Homo sapiens: one gene and its partners. The protein of the gene in region 4 purifies or fractionates together with the protein of the main gene of each other region. This does not show direct contact. Each region holds a gene or a part of one and is shown on either strand. Other genes may lie near its edges.

What was found.
Region 1: the proteins of VMA12 (region 4) and ATP6AP2 purify together in Homo sapiens (affinity purification with mass spectrometry; 4 studies listed by BioGRID and IntAct, with this or other methods). This does not show direct contact.
Region 2: the proteins of VMA12 (region 4) and CLTCL1 purify together in Homo sapiens (affinity purification with mass spectrometry; 2 studies listed by BioGRID and IntAct, with this or other methods). This does not show direct contact.
Region 3: the proteins of VMA12 (region 4) and TMEM259 purify together in Homo sapiens (affinity purification with mass spectrometry; 2 studies listed by BioGRID and IntAct, with this or other methods). This does not show direct contact.

What each region holds. Positions count from the first base shown.
Region 1 is NC_000023.11:40,576,255-40,583,974, forward strand, and holds the start of ATP6AP2 (renin receptor precursor), read left to right. Parts: upstream 1-4,715; 5' UTR 4,716-4,811; coding exon 4,812-4,848; intron 4,849-7,720. UniProt on the Homo sapiens protein: Multifunctional protein which functions as a renin, prorenin cellular receptor and is involved in the assembly of the lysosomal proton-transporting V-type ATPase (V-ATPase) and the acidification of the endo-lysosomal system.
Region 2 is NC_000022.11:19,288,715-19,296,374, forward strand, and holds the start of CLTCL1 (clathrin heavy chain 2), read right to left. Parts: upstream 3,006-7,660; 5' UTR 2,928-3,005; coding exon 2,886-2,927; intron 1-2,885. UniProt on the Homo sapiens protein: Clathrin is the major protein of the polyhedral coat of coated pits and vesicles. Two different adapter protein complexes link the clathrin lattice either to the plasma membrane or to the trans-Golgi network.
Region 3 is NC_000019.10:1,018,120-1,024,985, forward strand, and holds the start of TMEM259 (membralin), read right to left. Parts: upstream 3,005-6,866; 5' UTR 2,878-3,004; coding exon 2,653-2,877; intron 1-2,652. UniProt on the Homo sapiens protein: May have a role in the ERAD pathway required for clearance of misfolded proteins in the endoplasmic reticulum (ER). Promotes survival of motor neurons, probably by protecting against ER stress.
Region 4 is NC_000017.11:28,352,707-28,360,650, reverse strand, and holds the start of VMA12 (vacuolar ATPase assembly protein VMA12), read right to left. Parts: upstream 3,005-7,944; 5' UTR 2,981-3,004; coding exon 2,770-2,980; intron 1,736-2,769; coding exon 1,662-1,735; intron 1,337-1,661; coding exon 1,247-1,336; intron 123-1,246; coding exon 80-122; intron 1-79. Other genes in the region: POLDIP2 (polymerase delta-interacting protein 2), read left to right, coding at 3,203-3,363, 4,775-4,856, 6,066-6,163, 6,860-6,956, 7,335-7,410, 7,632-7,739. UniProt on the Homo sapiens protein: Accessory component of the proton-transporting vacuolar (V)-ATPase protein pump involved in intracellular iron homeostasis.

The DNA of each region.
Region 1 (7,720 bases), on a different chromosome or scaffold from region 4:
ACACTAGCCAGGTTGACATGAATATGCAGACTACTACATACTTATATATCTCACTGTAAATGAACAAACTGCTGTTCGCAACATTAAGATCTTATGAGTTTATTATTTTGGGTTGATGTCACCCAGTTGGATTAACTCTCGGATGCTGATAGAACTGGGATTCTCAGGCTGGAAGGCCAAAGCCTGGCTTTTGCCTCATAGTGAATTCCCACAGGAGATAGCATCTCTACTATCTCTCGGAAGACAGCCATTAGCATGCCAACCACAACACTGGCCTTTCTTTGGAAACTTCCACACTCACTGAAGACATGTTTTGTAAACACAAGATTTTGCAAACATAATTTGAAACCACATACAAATAATTTCTACCAAGTCAAAAAGAAGTGCTCCTTCTCAAGACTCAAAAAAAGCAAACTAGATTTTTAAAACCTTTCTACTGGAAAATACAGCACACAAGTGAACATACAATATCAATGCTCAGAATATGGATAATCACAAAATGAACACTAGTGTGACAACCACCACCACCATTCAGAAATGACCAGCACCCCTAAATACTTCTCCATGTCTCTTTCAGACATATCTTTCTCCCCTCCACCCTGGAGGTAATCACTGTTCTAATTTTTTATGGTAACCATTTCCTTGCTTTTCTTTAAACTTTTGTCATCTATGCTGGATTCTTTAAAAATATAGTTTCTGGGTTTTTTTTTTTTTTTTTTTTTTTTTTGGAGATAGCGTTGCCCTCTGTCACCCAGGCTGGAGTGCAATGATGAGATCTTGACTTACTGCAGTCTCAACCTCCTGGGTTCAAGTGATCCTCCTGTCTCAGCCTCCCCAGTAGCTGGGACTACAGGTATGCGCTACCATGCCTGGCTAATTTTTTTTTCTTTTGAAACAGGGTCTCACTTTGTCGCCCAGGCTAAATTGCAGTGGCACAAGCTTGACTCACTGCAACCTCCGCCTCCCAGGTTCAAGCGATTCTCCCGCCTTGGCCTCCCGAGTAGCTAGGACTACAGGCACGTACCACCATACCTGGCTAATTTTTGTATTTTTTGGTAGTGATGGGGTTTCACCATGTTGACTAGGCTGGTCTTGAACTCCTGACCTCAAGTGATCCACTCGCCTAGGCCTCCCAAACTGCTGGGATTACAGGTGTGAGCCACCGCGCCCAGCCCAGACTTTCCTTGTTTTTGATGACTTCTGAGGAGCAGCAGTCAGATATTTTGTAGAATGCCCCTCTATTGGCATTTATCTGATGTTTTTCTCATGATTACACTGGGGTTATGGGTATGGGGGAGGAAGATCATAGAGGTGAAGTGCCTGCCATTATCATTGTATCACATCAAGGGCACACACTGTCAACATGACCGATCACTGTTGGTGTTGACCTTGATCACATCGCCTAGATAGTATTTGTTGGGTTTTTGCACTGCAAAGCTGCTCTCCCCTCCCCCACACCTTTCCATAGTGTATATAGTACCTTTTGAAGAACATAAATTCTTAATTTTAACTGCATGGTCTGGGAGAGGGGCATGATCTTCGCCTCCACAGGGCTCCTGGATGGGATGTCTCATTTGCAGGGATCAGCTCATGTTATCGCGCTCACTCCGGGATCACTCAGAACTCACTGCTGGACTTAATTGGGGGACGAGGGCGAGACTTAAGGAAGCAAATGGAATTATGTATTCTTTCAAATCTTGCATCTGGACCTCTAGTTTTGAAACTCAAGAGCCAAGAATTTGACATTTGTTTTCAGGTTCTCCTGAGAGTCCTCCCCTCAGGGCAACGGATGGCTGCAGTCTTGCCTATTTGGCCTGTGGGGAGGGTGGAGAAAGGCTTCTTTTAGGCTAACAAATGGGGTCATAACTTCAAATATTGTATTACCCTGCTACACACATATCCATCTCTAAATGCTTCAGTGGAAAAGTTAACCGCACATCACCAGTTGTTTACTGAGCGCTAAAGATTGAATCAGCAGGGCTGCATTCACGAAGCAGAACTGCTGACGATTCAGAATATGACCTTGAGTACATATGCCCTTCCCTAGGCTTCAATCTCTCAATCTATGAAACAAGGAGAGGGCTTCCGACAATGTTTATCTTGCTAAATTCCAAGGTTGTAGAGAACAACAATGCCCCTTTGCAACCTCAGGTGAAAAGGGCCCTTAGGTGTAAAGAATACACTATTCGCTGTTAGCTCAAAAGGGGATGTTATTTCTCAAGACATAAATGGATTGTGAAAGATTGTGAGGTTTTCTGGGGGAATGGGGGGGTGGGGACTTATTTTATATTCCAGTCTATTTACAAATTTTTTCATCTTCCTCAAATTCAAAGAAATAAGAATGTACTAGAAGTCTTAAGAACAGAAACATTCACTCCTTTCCCTGTTTCCTTAAGCTGGATGAAATGGCAGGAGGTCTGCTCCACTTTTAGCTGATTATGTCCCTAAATAAGGTTTAGATAAGTTCTTGCAGGGCCTGTGATTCAAAACCTGTTCTAAGACATGCAGGGAGATGGACAAAGAATTTTAGTTGGTGTGAAAAGATTGTGAATTTATCATGCTTAAAAATGAATTTTTAAAAATGATTAATTTTTTTCCGCCGGGAGCAGTGGCTCACGCCTGTAATCTCAGCACTTTGGGAGGCTTTAGTGGGTGGATCGCCTGAGGTCAGGAGTTCGAGACCAGCCTGGCCAACATGGTGAAACCCCGTCTCTACTAAAAATACAAAAATTAGCCGGGCGTGGTGGTTGGCGCCTGTAATCCCAACTACTTGGGAAGCTGAGGCAGGAGAATTGCTTGAACTCGGGAGTTGGAGGTTGCAGTGAGCTGAGATCGCACCACTGCACTCCAGCCTGGGCAACAAGAGGGAAACTTCGTCTCAACAACAACAAAAAAAGTGATTAATTTTTTTCGAGTCAGTCACATTAGAGTGGATGTTTTGGAGGGGTGCTTTAGACATTTTGGTTCTAATAATTTCACATGCCTGATGGAAAAATCTCTCTTCTCCCTTTCAGAGTTCTCTAAAGTCCCATTTGTACAAATTCTCCTCTAGAGGAAAAGCAAGTTTGAGAGTTTCCTGTTTCTTGACGTTAGGTGAGGAAATCGACTCTGTTCCCTAAATTTGAGAGTGGCTTTGGTAAGCATAGTGTGTTCTAGAAAGTTCAAACTATTTAGTGAGTGTTTCTCTTTTTTTGCTTTCTTTATTTTCTAATAATAAAAAGACAGGGCCTCACTATGTTATCCAGGCTGGTTTTCAACTCCTGGTGTCAAAGGATCTTCCCACCTCGGCCTCTCAAAGCGCTGGGATTACAGGTGTGAGCCACCACACCTGGCCTCGAGAGTGTCTTTCTGATTCAGTTTTCAGTTGGGCAAGGTTTTCCTAGGGTGGGTCTGCTACCTGGGGAACTCCTGGGGTCACTGTTTTTAACTCGCTCTCATTTTTTCATCCTCAGGAAACTCCAAGAAGAAAATGGGACTGGAAACTGAAGAAACAGTAAGGCATTCCCCCCCTCCCCCCCGCCAATAAGTCTGTCTTACATTTGTGCAGTAAATCATGCTCAAACGCCTTCAATGGCTTAGTGTAGGTCTCTTATGTACAATTTAAAATCCTCAATAAATGTGCCTAACTGAAAGTTTTAGCTCTGTGCCTCCTCTCTCATATAATCTCTTATTTGATTACTGATGCTTAACCTGACGGGGCTTTCTCCCCACCTTAACTACAGTTTTCACTGGAACAATCTCCCCATCTCCTATCCTTGGATATGAAATCATTTCCACCTTTCAAGGTCATCAGCTGGGGCGTCATTTTCTACCTACAGACGCTATAGTGTGTCCCTTCTTGCCTCACATCATAGGCAAAAGACTATGAACTGCGGGAGGGGAGGAGCCTGGTCTAATTACTATGTCTAGCCTTCATACATCCTCATAGAACACCTTGCCCAGATTGGAAACTGAGTGAATGGACAAATTAAGTAATTAATTAACTTTCTGTCCCATGACTCCTTGTAGATTGGAAAGTCTTTGGAGGTAGAGTTGCCAGACTTAGCGAATCAAAATATAGGATACCCAGTTATATTTGAATTTCAGATAACCAGTAATACTTCTTTTAATACAAGTATGTCCCATAAATTAATTGCGACATAATAACAAATAATCGTTGTTTACATGAAATTCAAATTTAACTGGGCGCCCTGTATTTTATCTGGCACCACTATGTGGAAGGCAGGGGTTCCCCGTTGCGCCTGGCTTCTTCCCAGTAGGTGCTCGGCGTCTGTATACTTGTTAGAGCGAAACCCCAACCAGCCCCGCCTTTCACAGCTGGCGTCCGTAGCCGGGCGGAGGCACACGACCAGGAAAGACAGACACCCTGGTTGGAGACCGTCGCTCGAGACTGGCAGAAAGATCTGCACTCGGGAGGCACCCTCACCCCGTGGGCTCCGGGACCCCTCGACTAGCTCCATCACCCATTCCGACTACCCGCCCTACGCTCCACCTCTTGACCCGTCATCACCGACCGGGGGGCGGGACTGCCCGACTTTTCAATCGCTGCCTACCATTGGTAGAACTCTCCATCCGTTACTTTAAGTCCCGCCTATCAGGCTGTCGCTTCCCAGGTTACGTCCCTTCCGTAGGCCGCGGCGTAACTGGTGATTGGTGGAGAAAGCGGCAGCTGTCCCAGCGGAAGCGACGAAGGGACGGGACCCGGGAGCCTGGACGAGTCCGAGCGCGTCACCTCCTCACGCTGCGGCTGTCGCCCGTGTCCCGCCGGCCCGTTCCGTGTCGCCCCGCAGTGCTGCGGCCGCCGCGGCACCATGGCTGTGTTTGTCGTGCTCCTGGCGTTGGTGGCGGGTGAGGAGCCGGGGGCCGGCAGGACGTGCCTGGGGAGGTCCTGCGCCGCGGGGCTTGGGGGTCGGGGGCGGCCGCGGGCGAGTAGCTGCGAGGCAGGTGCCGCAGTGCGGTCCGTCAGCGGCGGCCTCGCCTCAGCCGCGTCCCCGTCAGCATCTTCTCTGGATCGGCCGTGGCGGCGCGGCCTCACGGGCCGCCGGGGCCGGGGCTGGGCTGCGTAGGGGGCCCCTGAGCCTGCCTCCACCCTCCACTTTGAGGGCGGCGCGTCCGGCCGGCTTCTTGCGCCTGAAAAGGCCCTTCAGAGTACGGAGATGCATTTCTCAGTGAACTGGGATTGAGTCGCAGCCCGCTGCGAAGAAGAGAAGGCAGACTTTTTAGCTGCCACTGGCTGCCACGATGTTTTTGCATTTGTATGGTGCCTTCATTTCTAGTGGTTGTCATCAGTAATTGCTGAAATCCCTGCCCCTCCCTTCCCTTATGTATATTTCCGGATGCAAAAGTTGAGATGGAGTCATTATTTTTATATGACTTATATTTCTTAAGGCGAATACAAAGCACCTCTCAATAGTTTGTCAGAGTTCCAAATTTTAAGGATTTGGAAACAGGATGTGAGTCGCATTTTTAGGGTCACATGTCAATAAATGGTAGCTTTCTGAGTAGAACCTAGATTCCTAAGCATTCAGCAAGAGGTGAAGAAATCAGCTAATACGTGGCCTCTTACTGCATATCATGTGGTAATGTATTTCATTTGACAGCAGTCCTTAGAGGGCATCATCTTTGTTTTGCAGGGTGATCAACCTAAATAAATTACCCAACACTAAACAGGTTGGGTGCTGGATTTGATTTCAGATGAGGTGGTGCCAGCGCATCGGCCTTTTCCATTATATATGTTGTGTTGCACAAGTAACGCTATTACTGTGTGAGAATGTGGGAGTGATGGGGACTGAGACTGGAGGCACAGACAGTAGTGAACAAGAGGCCAAGTTGAGAACGGCTTGGAGGAATGGGTGCTCTGATCTCAGTGTGTCAGTTTAAAACCTATGGGAGGCCGGGCGCGGTGGTTCACGCCTGTAATCCCGGCACTTTGGGAGGCCGAAGCAGGCAGATCACCTGAGGTCAGGAGTTTGAGACCAGCCTGGCCAACAAGGCAAAACGCCATCTCTACTGCAAATATAAAAATTAGCCGGGTGTGTTGGGGCACACCTGTAATCCCAGCTACTCAGGAGGCTGAGGTACGAGAATCGCTTGAGCCCGGGAGGCGGAGGTTGCAGTGAGCCGAGATCGCGCCATTGCACTCCAGCCTGGGCGATAGAGCCAGACCTTGTCTCAGAAGCAAAAACAAACATACAAACAAACCAAAAACCTATGTGAGGTGTTGGGAGGTCCTGCTTGTGGAATGGCGATTTAATTCTGCACCAGTATGCTCTTGAAATCTGCAGATCTCTGTCCCTAGAGGTGCGGGGGTTTTGTGTGTTAATGATAGTTACGTTGTATCCATGCCCCAAACGTTTTCGAGTTCTTTGTTTCTTTCTTCTGTTTCTGGCTCTGGAAAGGTCTTTCTGATCTACTGAGATACTTTGAGGGAATTAATTTTAATTCAGTTTTTGAAATTTTAAAAATATTCCCTTTGATCCTGTGGTTTAACTGAACATCTATTGAGATTCCATGTTTTAATATTTTGACTGATATTATTTTGATTCAGTGAGGTATAGGCTTTTTTGTTTTGGGTCTGAGATAAAATAATTGCTTCTGCACATGGTTTGAACATGTTTTCCTTACTAGCATAGCCGAGTTCATACAGAACAAGAACCTGATCCTGTCAGCTTCTGAATTGCTCAGTCTTGTCAGATGAGGTTCAGTTATTATTTTCCACAATGACTAAATGTGATGTAGTGGAAAACATCTTTAAGAGCTCTGACTTCTCTATTCCAGGCAGAAACAAAAATAGAAATCCTTTAAAACAGTGTTGCCAAACTAGAGGGAGAACTAGGGACCTAGAGAGAGAGGAAGGGAACTAGGATTTTGAATACCATATCATGAGGCGTATTTGATAAAATTCAGATATTTAGCCTGGAGAAGAAAGGCCAAGGGTGAACACATGGAATTTGAAGTGATGTCATGTAGAAGAGGGAGATAGGATCCATTTTTTTATTATTATTGATTCCATCCACCATTCGTAGACGATAATAGCACAGTATAGTGGAGTTCCTAGAGGGAAGGACACTTAGCCCAGACTGGGGAGGCTGAGGAAAATTTCCCATGGGAGGTGCCTCCCAGGGCTAATGTGTTGAAAAGTTGGGGTGGGAAGAAAAGGTATTTGAAACAGAACAGCATGTGTAAAAGCATGGCGATGTGAGAGCAAAGGGGCAAGTAGTTTGGTGGGGCTGAAATGTACAGGATTAAGTTGGGGAGATACCAGAAATAAGGCTGATGAGGTTTCTTGGGTGTTAATGCTTTGGGTTTTGCCTCAGAGTCTCTGGGCAGTGAGAGAAGGCATTTAAGCAGAAGGGTGAATGATCAGATCTGTATTTTGAAGCAGTTATGGGAAAGGCTGGATTAGAGAGTGGCATGACAAGGGTCATAAGGCACCCAATTCTAGCAAACCTGGAGAGGGCCTGAAGAGTGTGCCCTGGACATAGAGGGGAAAGGATTTGTGAGATAAGAAAAAAAGATGAAATTCAGTGGCTAATTAGCTGTGTTGCTGAGGAAGATTTAAAGACGACTGATTCCAGCCACTGGGTGGAAGGAAGGTGGTATCATCCTTCAAGATAGAATACAGGAGAAGTGTGTGGAAAGATGGTGAATTGGGTGTGTTTTTGGTGTTTGCAGCCTTAGGAGTAGTTGGGCTCAGCCTGGGAGAGATGTAGAATAGGAA
Region 2 (7,660 bases), on a different chromosome or scaffold from region 4:
GGGAACATCAAGCTTATGGGAATACATAACATCACCAGCAGCATGTCCTGAATGAAAAAGCAGAGGGGCTCAAGACAGATTCCAAGCTCATGCACAAGAGCCGCCCATGGGGCAGTGGGTGTGGGCAGAGAGGAAGGAGAAACCCTGGGAAACTGTGGAACCAAAAACAGTAGAGAAAGGACCCTCAGGAGGCAGTAAAGTGCAGCATCAAATGCGGCTGGACATCACAGAAGATGCGTGTGGTGTGATGGGCTTTATCTCACCTAGCTCATCGCATCTTATTTTTTGAGACGGAGTCTCGGTCTGTTACCCAGGCTGGAGAGTAGTGACATGATTTTGGCTCACTGCAACCTCTGCCTCCCGGGTTCAAGAGATTCTCCCGCCTCAGCCTCCTGACTAGCTGGGACTACAGGTGCGTACCAACACGCCCGGCTAATACTGTATTTTTAGTAGAGACGAGGTTTCACCATGTTGGCCAGGCTGGTCTCGAACTCCTGATCTCAGGTGATCCACCCGCCTCGGCCTCCCAAAGTGGTGGGATTACAGGTGTGAGCCACCATGCTCGGCCTGATTTTATTTTTTACAGCAAAGATTAGCCAACTGCAGCCTGCTTTTGTATGGCTAAACTAAAAGTCTTTTTCATATTTTTAGAAGGTTAAAAAATGTAAGAATATGGGACAGAGACAGAATGTGGCCCTTACAAAAAAGCCTGCAGGATGGCTTGTAACCTTGGCAAAAACAGATTCAGGGGAAAAAATGGGGACAAAAGCCAGACTGCAGGTTACTGTGGAACATAAAAATAATGAAGCACTAAAGCAGCTCTTTCATGACATCCAGCTATGAGACAAGAGCTTCGTGGGGACAAGAGCGGGGGAAGAAGTTTGCTGGTTGTACAGATGGAAGAGAGGTGAGCATTGCCCAACACAAACAGGAAGAAACAACAAGACAGAAGGATGAAAATACAGGAAAGGGAGGCTATGACTGAACGAGGCTCCCTTATAGGGAAGAAGGATACCAGATCCAGAACATAGACAAGAAAGGACACCTACTTTTGAGGTAACAGGAAGGCAGGAAAGGGTGGCTGCAGACAAACATCTAAGTCTGCAGCCATATAGGTGAGAAACATCCCAGTTATGGCTTCAGTTTTCTCCAAGTCATCTGCTGGTTGCAAGGCAGGAGTGGCAGGATCAGGGATTTAAGGAACAGGCTGAAGTCTCGAAATGTCTGTAGTGAAGGCAGTGTGTGCTGACTCAGTGTTTGCTCTACAGAATGCACAGCAGCCTCAAAGACCCAGTCAGTGTTAGAGACCACAAACCAGACTTGCATTCACGTGGCTGCCCACCACAAGCCACAAGCATTTTCCAGATAATGGAACATATCAACTCTGATGGACATTACAAATCCTGATGGACATTAGAAACTCTGATGGACACCTAAAATATCTTGTTGCTTTCTTGCCCTTTGAAAAGAACATATTTAGATAGTGGTTAAGCACAGGCATTGGAATCAGACCTGGGTTAGAACTCAAGCTTTGTCACTTACTAGCCATGTAACTTTTGCTGAAGGAATTAGAATATTAACCTCAGTGACCCATGGTAGAAAACAGGATATCACTATCTGCCTCAGTTATCATGAGGATTAAATTAAACCAGATTTATAAAATACAGTAGTCTAGTGAGTGGCAAGAGAAACGGCTCAGTAAATGATAACTACATCATCATCATTATTATGAGCAGCAGCAGTATTTTGCTACCTCAACATGACTGGTGCTGGCTTAGCTTAGTGGCAGAATGAAGCCCGGACAGATGTCAGGGCACTCCCACCTCCATACAACTTCCACTGTGTCACTAACCAAGTGACCCTGGCAGGATCCCCTGGATATCAAGTTTCCAGTCTGCAGAATGAGGGGACTGGACTGCACTACACAGTTCCCAAGGCTTTTCCCGTCTGCATCTAGGGCTAACAGTGCTCTGCACTGTGAAAATAGGAACTTTCAAGCAAGCACGTTCCTCGATGTACTACTTTGTGGTCAAAAAGACTTGAGTCTGAATCCTGTTCTTATTGAATGAAGATGAGTTCTTTAACACTTTTGAGACTCGGTTTCCTCATCTAGAAAAGAGTAAGCGAATCGCAACGAATGGTAGTGTGATGATTTAACACAGAGCACTCAGGGAGGAGCCGCTGGCTATCCCTCCTCTGCCGCACCTCCCAGGGTAAACGTGGGGACCAGCACCGCTCCCGGGCAGACCCGCGAGCGGCCCGCACGACGCCCGACCTGAGCCTTTGCTCAAAGCAGGGGGCCAGTCCTTATGTTTCTGAACACAAACAAATGGAGAACAAACTGGGACCTTATTAAAAAGGCAGGCTTTGGGGGTGTTACTGCATTGAAAAGCCCTATTTAGGCTTGGCCCTGAGAAATTTTTCTCTTGGGTCACGCATGTTCACGGTCCTCCCAGGCGAAGCCGCCCTGGGGACGAAAACCGATCACAGAGGCAAACTCAGGGGCGAATAAGGACCGCAGGACGCCAAGGAGGGGCGTGGAGCTGTGGGATCCGCGCGGCCCTTGGGTTGCCCTGCCTGCAGCGGGAATTTGTGTGCCTCCTCGCGGGCACTGAGCGGGGCGTCCCAGGGGGCGTTGGCTTCCACCCCCACCATTCCCCAGCCGGCCCCGCCGGTAACGGGCTTCGGCGACGGCACCCAAGCGGGTCCTCAGGAGCGGCCGCCGCGCCCGGGACGCCGCAGCCCCAGCCCAGGTGGGAGGTCGGAAATCGGCGCGGCCAGCTGGGCAGCGGCTCAGCGGGGCTGGGGGCGCGGGGTCAAGCCTGGCAGTCCGGCCCGGCGGAGGCGCGGCTGACAGGGCAGCCCCCCAGCCCGCCGGGCCTCACCTGGAAGTGCTCCTGAAAGCGAACAGGGAGGATCTGCGCCATGGCTGGTGCGGGACCTCGGCGGCGGCGGCGGCAGCGGCAGGAATGAACGCCGACCCCTCGCGCGGGCTGACCGGTGGCGACGGCGCAGGCGCAGTGCCCCGAGCTCCCGGTCCTGGCCCCCGCCCTCCTCCCTGACCGCGCCCCGGCCCGCACCCCCTTTCCCCGCCCCTTCCCCCGCCCCTGCCCCGCCCCTGCCCCGCCTCTGCCCCGCCCCTGCCCCCGCCCCTGCCCCCGCCCCTGCCCCCGCCTCTGCCCCGTCCCGCCTGCGCGGATCCCTCCGCCCGCTCCGAGGGTCCGCGGAAAGTAGTCCCGCGCGCCCTCTGCCCTGACGCGGTGTGTGCCAGCTACCCGAGTGAAAGGTTTTCGGGGGATTAATCCTGATGGGGTCTGCGGCGGCCCTTGCCCAGCGCCTTCCACATGTGGAGCGGGCCAGTGGTGCTAGTTCTGCCGCCAACTCTGGACGGTTGAGTTCAGGGCCACTTTTTACTCAGGCACGGATGTGACAGAAAGATGGAAAAGGGTCTTGGAAGAACCACATGTGCCGTATAACGAACGACCTTTTGGTCTGAGGAGGACCGTGTATATGACGGTGGTCCCATAACATGATAACGGAGCTGGAAACTTCCTGTCCTCTGGTGAGGGCTTAGCTAAGGACATTTCCTCTCCTGTATTTGGAGATACACGTACAGGTATGTCATTACCGTGCCAGGGGAATAACGCACCTCACACGCGGTGCGGGTTTGCGGCCTAGCAGCAGCGGACCGCATCAGCTGCCTAGTTGTGTAGTGGCTGTGCCATCTGAGTTTGTGTAAGTTACCTTGTGATGATCCCACAACCGAGACGCATGTCTCAGAATGCATGGATGCATGGGACGCGTGACTGTACGTGTTACAGACGTGTTTCGGCGTGAGGCTCGGCCCCTGCTCCTTTAGGAAACACCTTTCCTGGCTCATGCGGTTTCTAGAGAACACTGTGTCGGAATATCAATGTAGAGAGTCAGCGAAGGTCATCTAGCAGCAGATGACCAGCCCCAGGCCAGTGAGGATCACCCAGAGTGCCCGTGGCTGCACGACAGTAGTAGCAGGTGGAAGCTGGAGCCCACACCTGGTTTGCCCAGCAGCCAGTTGTTTTTCCGAGGCACCGTTGGCTGATGTTTTGCATACAGATGATTCAGCTGCATAAAAGATGTCTGTCAGGAAAGGGAAGCCCTTGGCATTCAGCACAGGCACTCCCTACGGGGTAATCGATAGCCGTCTCTGCTGCTTCCCATGTTGCTCACTGGTAATTTTAAGAAATGAACGGCCCACCTTGAATAAGACAAGGATGGTGCAATTATTTGCGCAATGGCTTGACCATCTAGTAGCCAAAAATATGTTAAGGAATAGAACAGACTGTTCACTTTCAAATTAAATCTCTTTTCCAGTATTAGCCAAGACCTCTGCAGCCCGCCCTTTCTAAAATCCATGTGGCCTCATCCGCTAAATATAGAGCTGGGTTTTGCTGTGGTTAGTACTACATTTCCCAAATCTCTTTATTTTGGCAATGATGCCTGTGACTCCAAGTACCCTTTACCCCAAACATTATATAAATTTTTTAGTAATTAATACCATCACTCCCTAAATCACCTTCCCCAGGGCTTTTTGGGGATTAAAACTAAAATTTTATACCCTAAAAGAAAGAATTTAAGAAAATCATAGTTAAGCAAAGTGACAGGATTGTTAATACGTCGGGACCTCAAGTGGGGATTAAGTTTCAACATTAATTTTAGAGGAGACACAAATCTTTCTGTCTCTTCAAACCATAGAAGAGACAGAAAGCACAACAGTTATTTGAATAGACAGAAGTGAATATAAGTGATAGTTGTAGTTAACAGGAAATAAAGTTGTTAATATACTTGTAAAAAAATTAAATGTTCTGACTTGAAAGGGACTTTAATATTCTCACCACTTGTAGGTAACTTGCTAAGTAACCCTAAAAAAACCTTTCAATTCTTTTTTTTTTTTTTTTTTTTTTGAGACAAGAGTCTCGCTCTGTCGCCCAGGCTGGTGTGCAGTGGCACGATCTCTGCTCACTGCAACCTCTGCCTCTCAGGTTCCAGCCATTCTCCTGCCTCAGCCTCCCAAGTAGCTGGGACTACAGGCGCACGCCACCGCACCTGGCTAATTTTTCATTTTTAGTAGAGACAGGGTCTCACCATGTTGACCAGGCTGGTCTCAAACTCCTGGCCTCAGGTGATCCATCCACCTCGGCCTTCCAAAGTGCTGGGATTACAGGTGTGAGCCACCGCGCCTGGCCCGGGATTAAGTTTCAACATTAATTTTGAAGGGGACACAAACCTTCAAACCACAGAAGAGAGAGAAAGTGCATCAGTTATTTAAACAAAGGGAACTGAATATAAACAATAGTTAACAGGAAGTAAATTTAAAATAATAAAAAGAAAATCCCAAGATATGGAGTTACAAACATAGGACACAGCTACCACCCCTAGAGCTCAAAGATGAAAGAGAAGCTGGAATTATTACAGCTTAAAGGAAGGGCTTGCAGAGCTGGAATTCAGATCTCTGAGGAGGTGTGTTGACCAGCTGGGGCTGGGGTCATTGAGCCCAGAGGAGAGATCCCATGGGGATGGGACTCAGACCTCTGAGGAGGGTCCCTACGGGACTTAGACACACACTATGGATGAGGGGTGGCTGTGGAGCTGGGAGTAAGCCCTCTAAAGAGGGCACTGGGAGACTCTCACCCAGATCTCTAAGGAGAAGGCATACTGAGGCTGGTTCTGCAAGTCTTGGAAAAACTTAAACTGGATTCAGCTTCTGTGGGAAGAATGTGCTGCTGCCTTGTTGAAGAAGCCTAGCTGGGGTGATGCTCACAGGAAGTGGCCCTGTGGTCTCCCTCTATCAACCTATCAGCTTAGTCTAATAGGGAATATTAGATCAGATCTTCTTTATTTGCCAATGAGAAATATGTTTTTTAGAGTCTCAGCCCTGGCATCAGAAGCAGTGTCTAGAGGTGGGAAGGGAGAATAGAGCTGAAAGACATTATTTAATAACTGGTACAAGAAACGACATGTTATAGCTAAATTCCAATTCCCATGGGACTTTCCTATAGGTGGAATTGAAAAGTCTGTGGAGGCGTATAATCGCAGCGCTTTGGGAGGCTGAGGTAGGAGGATTGCTTGAGCCCAGGAGTTCAAGACCAGCCTGGTCAACCCCATCTCTTCAAAAAAATTTAAAAATTAACAGGGCATGGTGATGCATGTCTATAGGCCTAGTTGGGAGGCTGCAACAGGAGGATCACTTGAGCCCATGAGCTCAAGGTTACAGTAAGCTATGATCGTACCACTATACTCCAGCCTGGGCAACAGAGAAAGACCCTGTCTTTAAAAAAGAAAAAGTCACTGGAGGACTTTAGTTTTCAGACAGCTTCAGAGAACTAAAAAGGCAGTGAATAATTATGAGGCCAATATCAGAGAGAAAGGACATGAGAGAGGTGAGTGGTTTATGGCTGCTTTTTCTTGAAAGGCATCTGCCAATTCCAGATGAATGTTTGAGACACTAGGACTCTGAGCAGCACTTTTAACACTCTCATTGCCCTAGGACGACAAAATTTGGAGGCTTGGTACCACCAAGGAGGTATCCCACTGTACTGTTTTGGGACCACAAGTTGTTTGGGACTCCATTCAAATCATGTCAGTCCTTGCCAGCAGCAAATGTAAATCTTCCCTGGGAATGATAACCTCATCCATGGTCTCAAATTACTTCTACAATTGTTCATATGCAGTGTTCAACACTGAATCAAAAATAAGTAGGCATCCAAGGAGAAAAGACAAAATGGTTGCAAAAAACAAGAGCAAGCCTGGACAACATAGTGACACCCTGTTTCTAAAAAACTAATAATAATAATAATTAGCTGAGCATGCACCTCCAGAGTCTGAGGCAGGAGGATGGCTTGAGCCCAGGAGGTCAAGGCTGCAGTGAGCCAAGATCACACTGCTGCACTCTAGCCTCGGTGATAGAATGAGGCCCTGTATCTGAAACAAAAACAAGAACAGTAACAGACAAGTGAGCTCTAGGGGATCAAAAAATGGAGTTTTCACAAAGACTTTTAAATAATTATGCTTAATATGGTTAAGAGGATAAAAGACAAGGTTAAGAATTTTATCACAAGCCTGTAAATTATAAAGAACCAAATGGAAATTCTAGAACTGAAATTGTGAAAATTCACCAGATAGTGTTAGCATATTACACACCTCTGAAAAGAGAAAGCTAGTGATGGTAGAGTTAAGTCAGAAGAGTATATCTAAATTAAAGCACAGAGATAAAAGGACAGAAAATAAAGCATATGAATAAATTAGATATAGAGGATACATGTAGAGGTCTAACATACAGGTAACTGAAGTCCTAGAAGTATAGAGAAAGAGACAGAAGCAATATCTAAAGAGATAATGGCTTAGGGTTTGAAAATTAATGAAGGATATCAATCTTCAGTTTCCAGAAACATTACAGATTTTAATTGGAATGTGTAAATTAAGGCAAAATACACTTAGGCATATCATAATGAAATAGCTCAAAACTAGGGAAAAAAAACTTAAAAGAAGCCAGAGGGAAAACAATGGATTACTTTCTAGGGAGAGATAATTAAGCTTAACTACTGACTTCTCAAACAATGAAGCAGAATAATCGTATCTTCAAAGTGGTCAAATAAAATAATGAGGTTGAAACTGGAAAAGTTCC
Region 3 (6,866 bases), on a different chromosome or scaffold from region 4:
TGGGTCCAGAGCCCAACCGCACAGGTGCAGGCACCCAGTGCCCCAAGATGGACAGTCTCTGCCACACTGGGCTCAGGGCCATGAAGGCCAGCAGAGGTGGATACTGAGGCTGGATGGAGGTCTCCCGAGGGCCCCTGGAACACAGGCCCCTGCCGCCTCCTCTCTCCCCAGCACCTGGCACTGCCTGGCATTTCCTAAAGCCACCCAGGCATGGATGAGGGACCGGGGGGCTCCATGCTGGCTCAGAGCTGGGAGATCCTGGCATTTCCTAAAGCCACCCAGGCATGGGTGAGAGCTGGGGGACTCCATGCCAGCTCAGGGCTGGGAGCTCAGCTGCACAGATGCCACAGGATGAAGCCACCTTGAAGGGATCATACCAGGGAGGACCTGGCTCTCTGCAGGGAGACCCCCGGAAGCCAGGCAGGCAGGAAGCAGAGGAGCCTTCTGGAACTCAAGGCAGCCTCTGAAATCAGGCAGTTCCAGCCTGCACTTTGCAGATAAGTAAAAGTGAAGGCAGCAGGGTCAGATTCTGTGCCACCAGATTACCGGGTGGAAAATTCACAAAGAACAGATTTCCCCACCCAGGCCAGGCATGGTGGCTCACGCCTGTAATCCCAGCCTTTTGGGAGGCCGAGGCGGGCAGATCACCTGAAATCAGCAGTTTGAGACCAGCCTAGCCAACATGGCAAAACCCAGTCTCTACTAAAAAGACAAAAAAATTAGCCGGTTGTGATGGTGGGCACCGGTAATCCTAGCTACTCCGCAGGCTGAGGCAGAAGAATTGCTTGAACCCAGGAGGTGGAGTTTGCAGTGAGCCGAGATCAAACCACTGCACTCCAGCCTGGGTGACAGAGCAAGACTCCATCTCAAAAAAAAAAAAAAAAAAATTCACCACCCAGAGATCTCACAGTCCAAAGCCCTCTGCTGAGAGAGGAGGGATTGGGGTTACTGAGAACCTCCCAAGAGTCTCCACCCTACACAGAAGACGGGGAACTCCAGCTCTGGCCCAGCCCCATCTGACCACCTGTGAGTGGTATTGGCCTGGAGATGGAGCCGGGTAGGCTTGATCCCTTTCCAAACCGGGACATGGTGGGACCAGGGCCCAGGCGACAGGGATGCACCTCCCAAGGAGGCTGAGCTCCGTCGGGGGAACCTGGCCTGGCACCCAGCACACACCCTCCACAAGCCTAAGGACACAGTGGCTCCATCCTGTTCCCAGGCTACTCCATGGAAGGAAAACCCACGTCCACAGACCAGCCTCCGTCCACAGTTTCAGGCCCCGTCTGTGGACCCCAGAGCCGGGAAAGGCCGCCTGCCTGCGTAACCCTTCACAGCCCTGCTCAGGTGCCTACTGAGGCGACCATGCCACTCTGGGGGGCTGCAGGGAGGAAGGTGGGAAGGATGATGGGCTGAGCTCTGGCCTGGGGAGGCACGGATCTGGAGGCTGGGGGGCCTTCCGTGAAGTGGCAGCAGGCTGGGACCCACACCCAGGTCCGCAGGACGGCCAAGGTCCAGCTCCACTTGCCGAGCCCAAAAAAGCAGCCAGCTCCTGACCAACCTGTGTCAGGCTGGGAACTTGCCCACGATCGCAGCCTGGCCCGCCAGCATCGGACCCCTCTTTGCAGGCTAGATCCAAAAAGCTCACGGCGCAACTTCAGCAGCCCCCAAGCCCCGGCGCGGCGGTGTTCTGATGCAGAACGAAAACGGCCACGTCCCCATTTCGCCAGGTGGCCCAGGACCCCGGCCAGCTTGTTTTCTGAGGGGCTGCAGCTGCTACTGAGCCCCTCTTGTCACCCAAGCAAGACTCCTTCTCAGAGGGAGTCAGGCCGATGCCTGTCCTGCACGGCTGAGACCTCTGCCATCTGAGGAGGGCGGGAGGGGGACAGAGCCCAAGACGCGGAGGCCGGTGCCTCATAGGGGAGGCACGGGCGACAGACCCACAACCTGAGCTCCTGAAGCAGGAAGGGAGTGGGGACCCAGCGGAGGAAGAGGCCGGGGATGGGGTGGTACGCTGCTGCCGGTGACTTTGCCGCTAACCCTAGCGAGGTGACCTCAGCTAAGTCACATTCCCCTGAGGCTCAGGAGCGGGGAACGCAGCTGAAAGGCTACAAGGAGGGAGAGAGGGGAGTGGGGAGTCGACTTCCAGGACAGGGGTTGGTCCGAGGGAGACCTGCGTCAGGCTGGGTTCTGGGCCAGCACATTGGGAGGGGAGAGAGGCCTCGGAACTGAGGGTCTCAGGCGGCACAGTCAGGGGTCAAAGGGCGGGAGGTGCTACCTCGCAGGCCAGGACCGGACTCCAAGCCTGGGTAGGTGGGGACCTGGGAAAGGCGGTCGCCGGGGACAGGATGGGCCCTGGAGGGAGCTGACAGTGAGGTTTCCAGAGTAGAGAACAGCGGCTTCTAGTGCAGCGGGATCCGGCCTTCCCGGGTGGACGTCCCCGGGCGGGATGGGGTCACGAGACGGTGTCCCTGGCCAATCCCAGGGTCAGAGGTCGCGAGGGAGAGCCCTAATCGGTAGGGCCGGGTATAGGCCTCAGGGTGCAGGGTGGCGCTCGCTGTCCCCAGCGGGGCCAGGGGTCGCGGTCGGAGGTAGCAGACTTGGGGGTCGGGACAGCCGCTGGGGTCAAGGGTCGGGGGTCGGGGCCGCGGTCACCTTGAGCAGCACGAAGAACTCGAAGAGACGGCGGAAGGCGGGCGGGAAGAGCCGCGAATAGGTGACAGCCATCTTGAAGAACAGCGCGTGGAAGAGCCGGTCGCGCACGTTGATGAGGGGGTTGGGGTTGAGATTGGGGGTGCGAGGCCCGCGCGCGGGGGCCGGGCCGCCGCCGCCGCCGTTGGGCCCGGGCCCCGGAGCTGCGGGCTCCACGTGCTCCGACATGCCTCCCAGCGTCGCGCCCTAACGACCCGCAAGTGTCCGAGGGCGCCTCCCGGCCGCCATCGGCCGCCCTCGCAGCCGCCGCTCTCCTCACGGCCTCCCGGCCGCCGCCGCCATCTTCCGCTTTCTCGTCCGGCTGCGGCGCTGCTGACGCTAGCGAGTCGCCACGCCGGGCAAGAGCGGCCCCCCTGCGCCCGCAGAGAACGCTGGGATGCCAGCGGCGCCCGCGGAGGCCTCACCCCCTACCTCGGCCGCTCCAGGGGGCGGGCCTGCATCTGGGCCACCTCTTTTGCATATTGGCACCCACAATCCACCGCGGCTATGAGGCCAGTATAAGGCGGTAAAATTACGATAAGATATGGGATTTTACGTGATCGAAGACATCAAAGTAAGCGTAAGCACGAAAGTTGTTCTGCAACATACCACTGTAGGAAATTATGCTAAATATGAAACCGACCATAAGTTATCCTAACCAAAAGATGATTTGATTGAAGGGCTTAAAATAGGTGTGACAGTAACCCTTGAGTCGTGCTCGCTTCGGCAGCACATATACTAAAATTGGAACGATACAGAGAAGATTAGCATGGCCCCTGCGCAAGGATGACACGCAAATTCGTGAAGCGTTCCATATTTTTGCTGTAGTCTACAGCTCGTCACCTCGTTTGGCTTCTCTTGCCCGGATCCTGCCATGACGTCACAGGGCCAGTAACGTCATAGTCTTCCCGTGTCCATCTCCTGTGGCGCCACTAAGGTTGGCGGTAGAACAATCTGGCAGTCTCTACTCCTGCGTGGCGCTGTGCCACCTGCCCCCGTAGCTTCGCGCAGCAATGAATAAATAAGTGCTCTTCAGGGGCACTTACTGAGTGCCGGCTGCGTACACAAGAGGATACTATGGTTTTTGGGTTTTTTGGTTGTTTGTTTGAGATGGATTCTCGCTCTGTCGCCCAGGCTGGAGCGCAGAAGCGCGATCTCGGCTCTCTGCAACCCCCGCCTCCCGGGTTCAAGCCATTCTCCTGCCTCAGCCTCCCAAGTAGCTGGGATTACAGGCATGCGCCACCACTCCAGGCTAATTTTATATTTTTAGTAGAGACGGTTTCTCCATGTTGGTCAGGCTGGTCTCGAACTCCTAACTTTAGGTGATTTGCCCGCCTAGGCCTCCCAAAGTGCTGGGATTACAGGTGTGACCCACCAAGCCCGCCAAAAAAAAGTTTTGTGTTGTTTTTTTTTTTTGAGACGCAGTCTCACTCTGTCGCCCAGGCTGGAGTGCAGTGGCGTGATCTCGGCTCACTGCAACCTCCGCCTCTTGGGTTCAAGCAATTCTCTGCCTCAGCCTCCTGAATAGCTGGGATTGCAGGCTTCCGCCACCACACCCGGCTATTTTTTTTGTATTTTTAGTGGAGACCAGGTTTGATCATCTTGGCCAGGTTGGTATTGAACTCCTGACCTCGTGATCCACCCGCGTCAGCCTCCCAAAGTGCTGGAGTTACAGGCATGAGCCACCGCGCCCGGCCCCCCCAAAAAAATGTTTTTAAAAGTTAACTGAGGACGTTGGTGCATGCCTGTAATTCCAGCTACTTGGGAGGCTGAGGTGGGAGGACTGCTTGAGCCCAGGAGTTGGAGGCTGCAGTGAGCCATGATCGTATCCCTGCGCTCCAGGTTGGATGACTAAGTGAGACCCTGTCTCTAAAAAATAAAGTGTAAAAAAGCCAACAGTCAGTATTTTTAGCTTTTTTGGGTAGAGTAACTACTCCACTCTGCTGTTGTACAGAAAACGCAGCCGTAAATGATACATAAATGGATGGGCACAGCTGTGTGCCAATAAAGCTTTGTCTGCAGACACTGGAATTTGAATGTTATGTAATTTCCACGTTTGATAGAATGGTTTTCATATTTTGGGTTTTTTTTTCAACCACTTAAAAATGTAAGAGCCATTCTTAGCTCACAAGCCATACAAAAATAGGCTGCAGCTGGATTTGGCCCACAGGTCAAGAACACAGCTTTCCAAGAGAAAGATAAGCAAATAACAAACATAACTTTAAGTGTTCTGGTAGCCACAGTAAAACAACTAAAAAAGAGCAAGTGAAATTAATTTTAATAATATATTTTACACATCTCAAGTTATCCAAACAAGGTCAGGCGCGGTGGCTCATGCCTGTAATCTCAGCACTTTTGGAGGCTGAGGCGGGAGGATCATTTCAGCCCAGGTGTTCAAGACCAGCCTGGGCAATATAATGAGATCCTGTCTCTACGAAAAATACCAAAAATTAGCTGGGCACGGTGGTGTGTGCCTGTGGTCCCAGCTACTTGGGAGGCTGAGGCAAGAGGATTGCTTAAGCCAAGGAGTTGGAGGCTGCAGTGAGCTGTGATGGCACCATTGCACTCCAGCCTGGGCAACAGAGCAAGACCCCACCTCATAAACGAAAAAAAAGTGGCCGGGCGCGGTGGCTGACACCTGTAATCCCAGCACTTGGGAGGCCGAGGCGGGCGGATCACGAGGTCAGGAGATCGAGACCACCCTGGCAAACACGGTGAAACCCTGTCTCTACTAAAAATACAAAAATATTAGCTGGGTGTGGTGGCGGGCGCCTGTAGTCCCAGCTGCTCGGGAGGCTGAGGCAGAAGAATGGCCTGAACCCGGGAGGCGGAGCTTGCAGTGAGCCGAGATCACGCCACTGCACCCCAGCCTGGGTGACAGAGCGAGACTACTTCTCAAAAAAAAAAAAAAAAAAAAAGTAACTGAGATGTACCAAGTCTTCAGAATCTGGTGTGTTTCCCATCCATGGGGTGTTCCAATATGGATACCAGTGCTTCCTCAGAAATACTTATCTCCACAGTATTTAGATTTACAGCGTTTATACTGAAAAGGAAAATTCAGAAACGCTAAGGTATTTAAAATATACACGAGGCTGAGCACGGTGGCTCACGCCTGCAATCCCAGCACTTTGGGAGGCTGAGGCGGGAGGATCACTTGAATCCAGACTGGGCAACATAGGGAGACCCCATCTCTACAAAAAATTTAAAAATTAGCTAGGCATATGGCACATGCCTGTAGTCCCAGATACTCAGGAGGCTGAGGCAGGAGATTACTTGAGTCCAGGAGGTCGAGGCTGCAGTGAACTATATTTGCACCACTGCACTCCAGCCTGGGTGACAGAGCAAGACCCTGTTTCAAATATCTATATATTTACATTTATATGTATAATGTGTACATATGTGTGTATTTATGTATTTGAAAACTTTAATGTGTGTGTACATATATATATAGTCAAAAACGGAAATCATGTCAGTTTTTAATTTTTAACTGAAATTAATTGAAATAGCCCGGCCACGGCAGCTGACACCTATAATCCCAGCACTTCGGAAGGCTGAGGCCGGCGGATCACTTGAGGTCAGGAGTTCAAGACCAGCCTGGCCAACATGGTGAAACCCGCATCTCTACTAAAAATGCAAAAATTAGCCAGGCGTGGTGGTGCGTGTCTACGGTCCCAGCTACTCGGAGTCCCAGCTACATATATATGTGTATTTATATATATGTGTCTTCAAAAAATGGAATCTAGTGCCAGTTTTTAATTTTTAATTGAAATTTAAGAATAGGAAGTATTTGCTGGGTGCGGTGGCTCACACCTGTAATCCCAGCACTTTGGGAGGCTGAGGCGGGCAGATCACGAGGTCAGGAGATCGAGACCATCCTGGATAACACAGTGAAACCCCGTCTCTACTAAAAATACAAAAATTAGCTGGGTGTGGAGGTGTGCCTGTAGTCCCAGCTGCTGGGGAGGCTGAGGCAGGAGAATGGCGTGAACCCAGGAGGTGGAGCTTGCAGTGAGCCAAGATTGCGCCACTGCACTCCAGCCTGGGTGACAGAGCGAGACTCCGTCTCAAAAAATAATAATAAAATAAAATAAAAAGAACATGAAGTATTTGCTTCCCTGATGGCACCAGCCACACTTCCAGTGCTCAGTAGCCCCATGGCCAGTGGCTACAGTAGTAGA
Region 4 (7,944 bases):
TTTCAGTCAAACAACAAGCCTGAGTGTCATGACCCATCTCAGGAAAAGGTTTTAGAAGCCTGATCTCCTAGTACCTCACCTTGCTTTCCCAGGTCGCTGAGAGTCCCACCATGTCTTGTATCCTGGGAAAAAGAAAAAGAAGATGATTCAGAATAGAAGCAGCTCAGAGAGCATCCATTGACAGTCTGGCTCAGCCCTCTCTATTCCCCAACATATTAACTCTGCCCTCCCCATGGATTCTTTTGTCTGGAACCATTTTGACTCTTTTCTGGACTACAGAGCAGGCATTTCGGAGAGAGGACATAGGCTGCCAGTACCCATCTACTCTCCTGTTCCAGGGTAGGAGCATGCCATAGAGTAGTAGGGAGCCCTGTCAGAAGAAATGCTCGAATGGCTGGGCACAGTGGCTCACCTTGTAATCCCAGCACTTTGGGAGGCCGAGGCAGGAGGATCACCTTGAGGCTGGGAGTTCAAGACCAGCCTGGCCAACGTGGTCTCTACTAAAAATACAAAAAATTAGCCTGGCGTGGTGGTGCATGCCTGTAATCCCAGCTACTTGGGAGGCTGAGGCATAAGAATCACTTAAACCTGGAAGGCGGAGGCCGCAGTGAGCAGAGATCCTGCCACTGCCCTCCAGCCTGGGTGACAGAGTGAGACTCCATCTCAAAAAAAAAAAAGAAGAAGAAAAAAAGCCTCCAAGATTCATTCCCACTTATTTATTTATTTATTTATTTATTTTGAGATGGAGTCTTGCTCTTGTTGCTCAGGCTGGAGTGCAATGGTGCAGTGTTGGCTCACAGCAGCCTCTGCCTCCGCCTCCTGGGTTCAAGTGATTCTCCTGCCTCAGCCTCTCGAGTAGCTGGGATTACAGGTGCCCGCCACCACGCCAGGCTAAGTTTTGTATTTTTTGTAAAGACGGGGTTTCACCATGTTGGCCAGGCTGGTCACGAACTCCCGACCTCAAGTGATCCACCTACCTCAGCCTCCCAAAGTGCTAGGATTACAGGCATGAGCGCCGTGCCCGGCTAACTCCCACTTCTATGACGTTTAAAACTTGGTCACCATCTCAGCCCAGAGTCTCAGTGAATGAGATGGGAACTGTGTTGTTTGTATGCAGACTTCCTATGGTCCCTGAACAGTATAGAAACCAAGTTTCCATGTTTTTTCTAAACTCTGTATCTTCTTCCACTGCAGGGCCCTACTCTGAGGGGCTACCTAGACCACGTACTGAAGAGCATGTCCTTACCTGACAAGTGACGTTGCGGGTGATCCGTTTATATTCCTCATTGGCCAGCTGTATCTTAATCTTCTCCAGCCGGGCAACTAGTTCTGGGTTCTGAAGCAGAAAAATCAAATGAGAAGAATGATATTCCCAGCTTGTTAGAAAGCACATCACAATCATTGGTTCCAGGGGTAAAGCACTGCTAAAGGTATCAGGAGACCCACATACTAGTCGTAACTCCAGTGCTTTGAAACTGTTTTTTTTTTTTTTGATCTCAATTTTCCAAACAGCTGATGGGGAGGACAATATCTGGCTCCCCCAGATCCCAAAGATTTCAAAAACAATTTTTCAAGCCTAAAAGTTGATTTATAAGTTCAGTGTATCATGGATAAGCCCAACTCAGTCAATAACCACTCTCACAAACATATCCCTTACATACCCGTGGAGGCTTCACAACCTCTGGGAGATAGATTTCACTGCCTTCTAGGAGCTCATGGAGGTATAGTTTGGAATCTGAGAAGAAAAGGTTTCACAAACACAATGATCCACGAGCTGAGGTTGAAGGGTTAAGATCAAGAGGGGTGTAGCCCTTCTTTCTACCAAAATAAAACAGGGCCATCTCTACATTAATCCATTTCCAGGATCATTTTCAATTGAAAAGAATTTTGGATAATTCCATGTAGGTATCTCCCAGTGCTGCGCAGGTGACTTTAGCTGTCAGCTCTCAATTATCCTGCCAGTGTTATAACTAACAAGTAAGCCATTTACTTGTGCCTTTGGGTTAGATCAGTTCTGTGGCCACAACAGCTCTTCCCTAAATAAGTTTAGGTCATAGTGATGCTAAATGCTCAGAGGACACTAATACTAGGCAATCTCTTTCTAAGGTCCTTTCTAGTTCTAATAATTGAGCAGTCTACCCTTTGCACTTCTGGCTGGTCTATGTTACTTCTGGCAAAATACCTTATGTGCTAGTTTGTCCTGTTCCTTCCCTTTACACATAAGGGAACTGAGGCCCAGCGAGGAGAAATGACTCCTTCAAAGGATTAGTGACAGAGCTAGGACTGGAACTCACATGCTACTCTCAGGCCAGATCTTTCAACACAGCTTTTGCCATCCTATATTAAAAAAACAAACAAACAAAACAAAGTATCAGATTTCACCACTCTTGCTTTTGAGGTGGAAAGAAATCCGGATTCCTACAAGCTCACTATGCTAAGCTGATTCCTAAAGTGGAGAAAAAGAAGAGACAAAACCTGTGATATTTGTATTTGGTAAAAACCTAGACTTTCTCAAGGGTGAATTGGGCCTAGGTGTGCCTGGAAGTGAAGAGGGGGCTCTCAAAAGAGCAGAAACTGCACAAGCAAATTTGTCATCCACGAGAAATTCCCATGGGAGTTAAGAAAGTGGGTGGCCCTGGGATTTATGGAGTGACTCTTGACTTGTCTAGATGAGTGCTCCGTAGAAGAAGGGGAATGATGGGAAAAGACCTCAGGAGGGAATCGATCTGGACACAAGGAGGGGACCCCGGACTGGAGACTGGGGCTCACCCCTTTCTCTCAGATGCTGGTGCAGATCCCGGATGAGACGGAAAGAAACCAAGCGTTGGGGGCCACTGGAGCTATCACCGCCCTTGTGCTTCTTCCCCAGCGCGGCCTCAAGCTCGGCCCGCAGCTTTCGGGGTAGCCGCTCTGGCTCCAGCTCCCCGCCGGGGCCCAAAGCACGCACCAATCGCTCGCCCGCAAGCAAAGAGGACGCCATATCTAGCCGGCTCTCCGGTCAGGTGACCCCAACCCGGACTTCCGCCCGCCGCGCGCCGGAAGTAACGCTAAGCGCACCGGAAGTTGCTCTGAGCTCCGGGGTGGGACCAGGCGGGCCAAGAGGGCCGGGACGCCGCGCGGGGCAGTGTGGGACTGGGGCGGAACGCCGCCCGGCCGCGGGTCGGGCTCTGTGTCAGCAGCCGGGCGGGCGCTCGGGCGGGACATGGCAGCCTGTACAGCCCGGCGGGCCCTGGCCGTGGGCAGCCGCTGGTGGTCCCGGTCGCTGACTGGGGCCCGGTGGCCAAGGCCGCTCTGTGCGGCGGCCGGAGCTGGAGCCTTCTCGCCAGCGTCGACCACGACGACGCGGAGGCACCTCTCGTCCCGGTGAGGGACGGAGCCAGGGGGCGCGAGGAACTGGGCCTGGAGCCCAGAGAGCGTGTTCCTAGCCAGTGCGGAGGCCAGGGGCCCGGGCCTGCTGAGGGTGACTGGAGTTTGACCCGGGAGAGGGTCCCGAGCAGGGAGCCGACCTGCGCTGTCTGGGACATGTGCCAGGAGCAGGGAAGCCAGCGCGGCCCAGAGCCCTGGTTGTACAGGGCTGGCCCTGGGGGGGAACAGGTTACCCTCCCCAAGTGAATCCTACTTCCCCGGCTGGGGTCCCCAGCACCGATGTCAGAGGGAAGCTTTTTAATTCAGCCCTAGGGCATTGGCTTGAACCCTCAGCCTTTGGATTTGGTGAAGGTCTGCCTCAGAAAGATGCTAGAGGTGGGAAACGAGACTCTTGGGTGTGGACCCTCGTAGGCCCCAGGTTTCCAAGTGACTTTGGGGAGATCGATTTTCTATCTGTGACTTGGGGAAGGGGGTTTGAGGCCATGGGGATGGTGTGGAAACTGTTTCCACGGATGGGACAGGCGGATCAAATGGGCTGGTGGATCAGTGGGAGGAAGCATAAAGTTCACATCTTCAAAACAGTAAAAACAGCCTTTATTTGAAGGGCCCCTAGAAAGAGCAGCCCTGTTCAGAGTGGTGACTGACATTTTAGTGGCTGATATTAGACACTGAACATTGGGGAGAGATGATAGCTATTTGCAATTTAAGACCCCTGTGAGAATATGAACAAAAACGGTATTGAGAGAGCGATGTGCCGTAGGAAATCTAGAGATGTTTAAGCTTTTCAAGGGCAATGTAAGGGCTACAGGTTAGAGGGGGAGATGGACATGGAATTATAATACAGGACAAATATTTTTTGAGCACCTCTTGTACACTAGGCTCTGAGGGGGCAGTACCAGCTAATCAGACTCAGGCATTGCTCCCAGGGAATTTACAGTATTTAATAAAGATAAGACATGGACACAACTGAAATGTAAAGGGAGCAGGATATTGTTTGATGACTTGTGATATAGAAAATGTAAGAAAAGAAGAAAAAAAGATACTCCCCTTCTAAAAAAATTGAAAAAGTGAGCAAGACAGTTAAAGTGCTGTGGGAGGTCAGGAGGGTGGGTTAGGGAAGAAACAAGGGCAGGGGTACATTTGAGCAGAGTGTGAGGGCATGATATGAAGAATGCCCAGTGAAGAGAGAAGACAGTAGTATGGGAGCGGTCACATCTAACACTGGGAGACTGTGGAGGTTTTCACCAAGGAGGAGGAAAGCCTTTCCTGCTCCAGCTGGTCCCACTACCCCAAACCCTTCTCTGCTGTCATCGCCCTGGCCCCTCAGTATCCTAGGAGCTTTTTCTTATGGATAACTACCATTACCTTCTCAGCTTTTCTGTTGCTTGTTCTTTTCCTTCCTACTCAGAAACCGACCAGAGGGCAAAGTGTTGGAGACAGTTGGTGTGTTTGAGGTGCCAAAACAGAATGGAAAATATGAGACCGGGCAGGTGAGTATTGGGCTGGGTCATCTTTCATTTTCATAGAGTGCTCTGCTTCTGAAAAAAGTCAGATTAGGTCACAGGCCTGCATGGTATGGTGTTCCATTCATTCCACCTTGATGTTTGGTGCCATTCCAGAATCAAATTTGTATTCATTTTTTATTTTATTTATTTATTTTATTTATTTATTTTTTGTGAGACGGAGTTTCAGTCTTGTTGCCCAGGCTGGAGTGCAATGGCATGGTCTCGGCTCACTGCAAGCTCCACCTCCTGGGTTTAAGCAGTTCTCCTACCTCAGCCTCCCTAGTAGCTGGGATTACAAGCATGCGCCACCACACTTGGCTAATTTTGTACTTTTAGTGGAGATGCGGTTTCTCCATGTTGGTCAGGCTGGTCTCGAGCTCCCGACCTCAGGTGATCCACCTGCCTTGGCCTCCCAAAGTCCTGGGATTACTGGCGTGAGCCACCGCACCCAGCCCAGAATCAAATTTTTATAGATAGGGTTTCTGTTCTCCTGGATTTGAATGCACTTAATGTGTCAGTGGGTTCTCTTTCCAAGTTAATGTGGACAGGGATGGTGTGGACTATAGTGAGGTTTAGCCAAGTTGCTGAAGATTTCTCTAACATAGTGGATGGTGGGAAGCCGTGGAGGGAGCTTTCAGAAAAGTATACCTTTGATGCTTTGCCGTAATAAAATTGACTTCAGTGTGGTAAACTCTGGATGTGTGGTTCTTTTTCTATATCAGCTTTGTTCTGGGTCCACTGGGATAGATTTAGGCCCTTCTAGGATATTGTAGGTAAGGAAGACTTTTTGTTTGTTCAACATTTTATTTTTCTGTGTGCCTACAATGGACTAGGCATTGTGCATTAGGGTTAAATCAGAAAGCAAAGTAGACATGATTCCTGCTATTGTGGAGTTTCTAGTCTAGAAAAGAACGATTTGCAAATGGCCAATAGCTGTACATTGTGCTAAGTGGAAGGGAGGTCAGGGAAGGCTTCCTGGAGGCCTAAGCTTTTACCTAAAGGATGAGTAGAGTCAGCCAGGTAAAGAAGAAATAAGAGTGTTCCAGCATTGGTCTGGTTGATCACAGACTTCAAGGGAAGAGGTAGCAAGACCTTGTGCTGGAGTTGCCTCCACCTGTGTTGCTTTGTGGTCTGGGGCCCACCTGGATGGATTTGCTGGACTGCAGACTCACTGAGGCCCCTCTTTCCTTCCAGCTTTTCCTTCATAGCATTTTTGGCTACCGAGGTGTCGTCCTGTTTCCCTGGCAGGCCAGACTGTATGACCGGGATGTGGCTTCTGCAGCTCCAGAAAAGTAAGTTTCCCTGTGGTTGTGCCTCACAGTATCCTCAGGAGGAGATGGCAGACATATGTAATTGGGGTACTAGGGGTGAAGACAGCGTCCTCCTAGGCCTTGGAAACATCCCCAGAGTACTTCTCTGGGACTAAGACCCATGGAGACAAAAGTGCTGAGTGCCAGGGATAGTCTAAGTCAGAGAGTCCCTTTAGGCCTCCTCAGAATGCTTTCCTAAGCCATTCCTAATTTTCATTATGAGTATCCCAGAGGGCATTTGGGGGACAAGTCTTCTTGATTTCTTGATGTTCAGCTGGAGTCTTTCCCTCAATCTCACATCATCCCTAGAATACATTAAAACAGAAAAGGTTCAGCCCCATTAAGTGATCACAGACAGTCCCTGGGATATAAGAAGACAAGAGTACTCTGGGCCCTGGGGACTGAGGTGGCAATTTGATTTTCTCAACATGGCCCCCTTCTTTTAAGAGGTATCCACACGGTCAGATGATGGCTCCATACCATGGTCTTCCATGCTCTATTATTTGCCCCAACTGAGGAGCAGCTGAGCTGAGGTGCTGCAGAGCAGGTGTCCAGCTGGTGCTAAAGCCCCTTTAGATCAGAGACCAGCCTGTTTAGGTGAGGAGGAGTAGGGAGCTGAGTCAGCCACAGCTTCCATTTCTCCTGGGGTGATCTTGGCCTCCTTCTCCCACCCCATAGAGCAGAGAACCCTGCTGGCCATGGCTCCAAGGAGGTGAAAGGCAAAACTCACACTTACTATCAGGTGCTGATTGATGCTCGTGACTGCCCACATATAGTAAGTAAGCAAGATGGCTGGGCTTGGGGGTCCTCTCCATGGAAAGTCCTGCATCCCAATGGGGACAAAGGGAGGGAAGGGGGTCAAACAGAGCCCAGGTCAGTCTTGGTCCCCAAGGCCTTGGACTGCACAGTGGCCAACAAAGCCCTGATTCACGTCTTTTTTTTTTTTTTTGATATGGAGTCTCACTCTGTCGCCAGGCTGGAGTGCAGTGGTGAGATCTCAGCTCACTGCAACCTCTGCCTCCCGGGTTCAAGTGATTCTCCTGCCTCAGCCACCCGAGTAGCTGGGATTACAGGCATCTGCCACCACACCAGCCTAATTTTTGTACTTTTTAGCAGAGACATGGTTTCACCACTGATTCACTTCTTGCCTTAGTCTCAGAGATCTCAGACAGAAGCTGTGACCTTCTTGGCTAACCATGATGACAGTCGGGCCCTCTATGCCATCCCAGGTGAGTAGTTAGCATTTGAATGGTGCCCGTCAAGAAGGAGTCTGGTGTGTCTCAGGGAGAGGATTCTGATGTCCTGTCATCCACTGGGAGGGATTATGATGCTGAGAGGTATGATATCAGGGTTATCCCATACTGGAACAAGGCCAGTTAATGTTTCTTCTCAACCCCATCTCTCTCCTCTCCTGTGAGTTTCACCACTGTCTTTTGCATCTCTGTGCCAGGCTTGGACTATGTCAGCCATGAAGACATCCTCCCCTACACCTCCACTGATCAGGTTCCCATCCAACATGAACTCTTTGAAAGATTTCTTCTGTATGACCAGACAAAAGGTAATCTCTCTCAAGAAGGGGAGGTGGAATGGGAGGGCCTTTTCATCAAAGAATATCATAGAAATAATTCCAGGGCCGGGCACGGTGGCTCACGCCTGTAATCCCAGCACTTTGGGAGGCCCAGGCAGGTGGATCATCTGAGGTCAGGAGTTCAAGACTGGCCTGGCCAACCTGGTGAAACCCTGTCTCTACTAAAAATACAAAA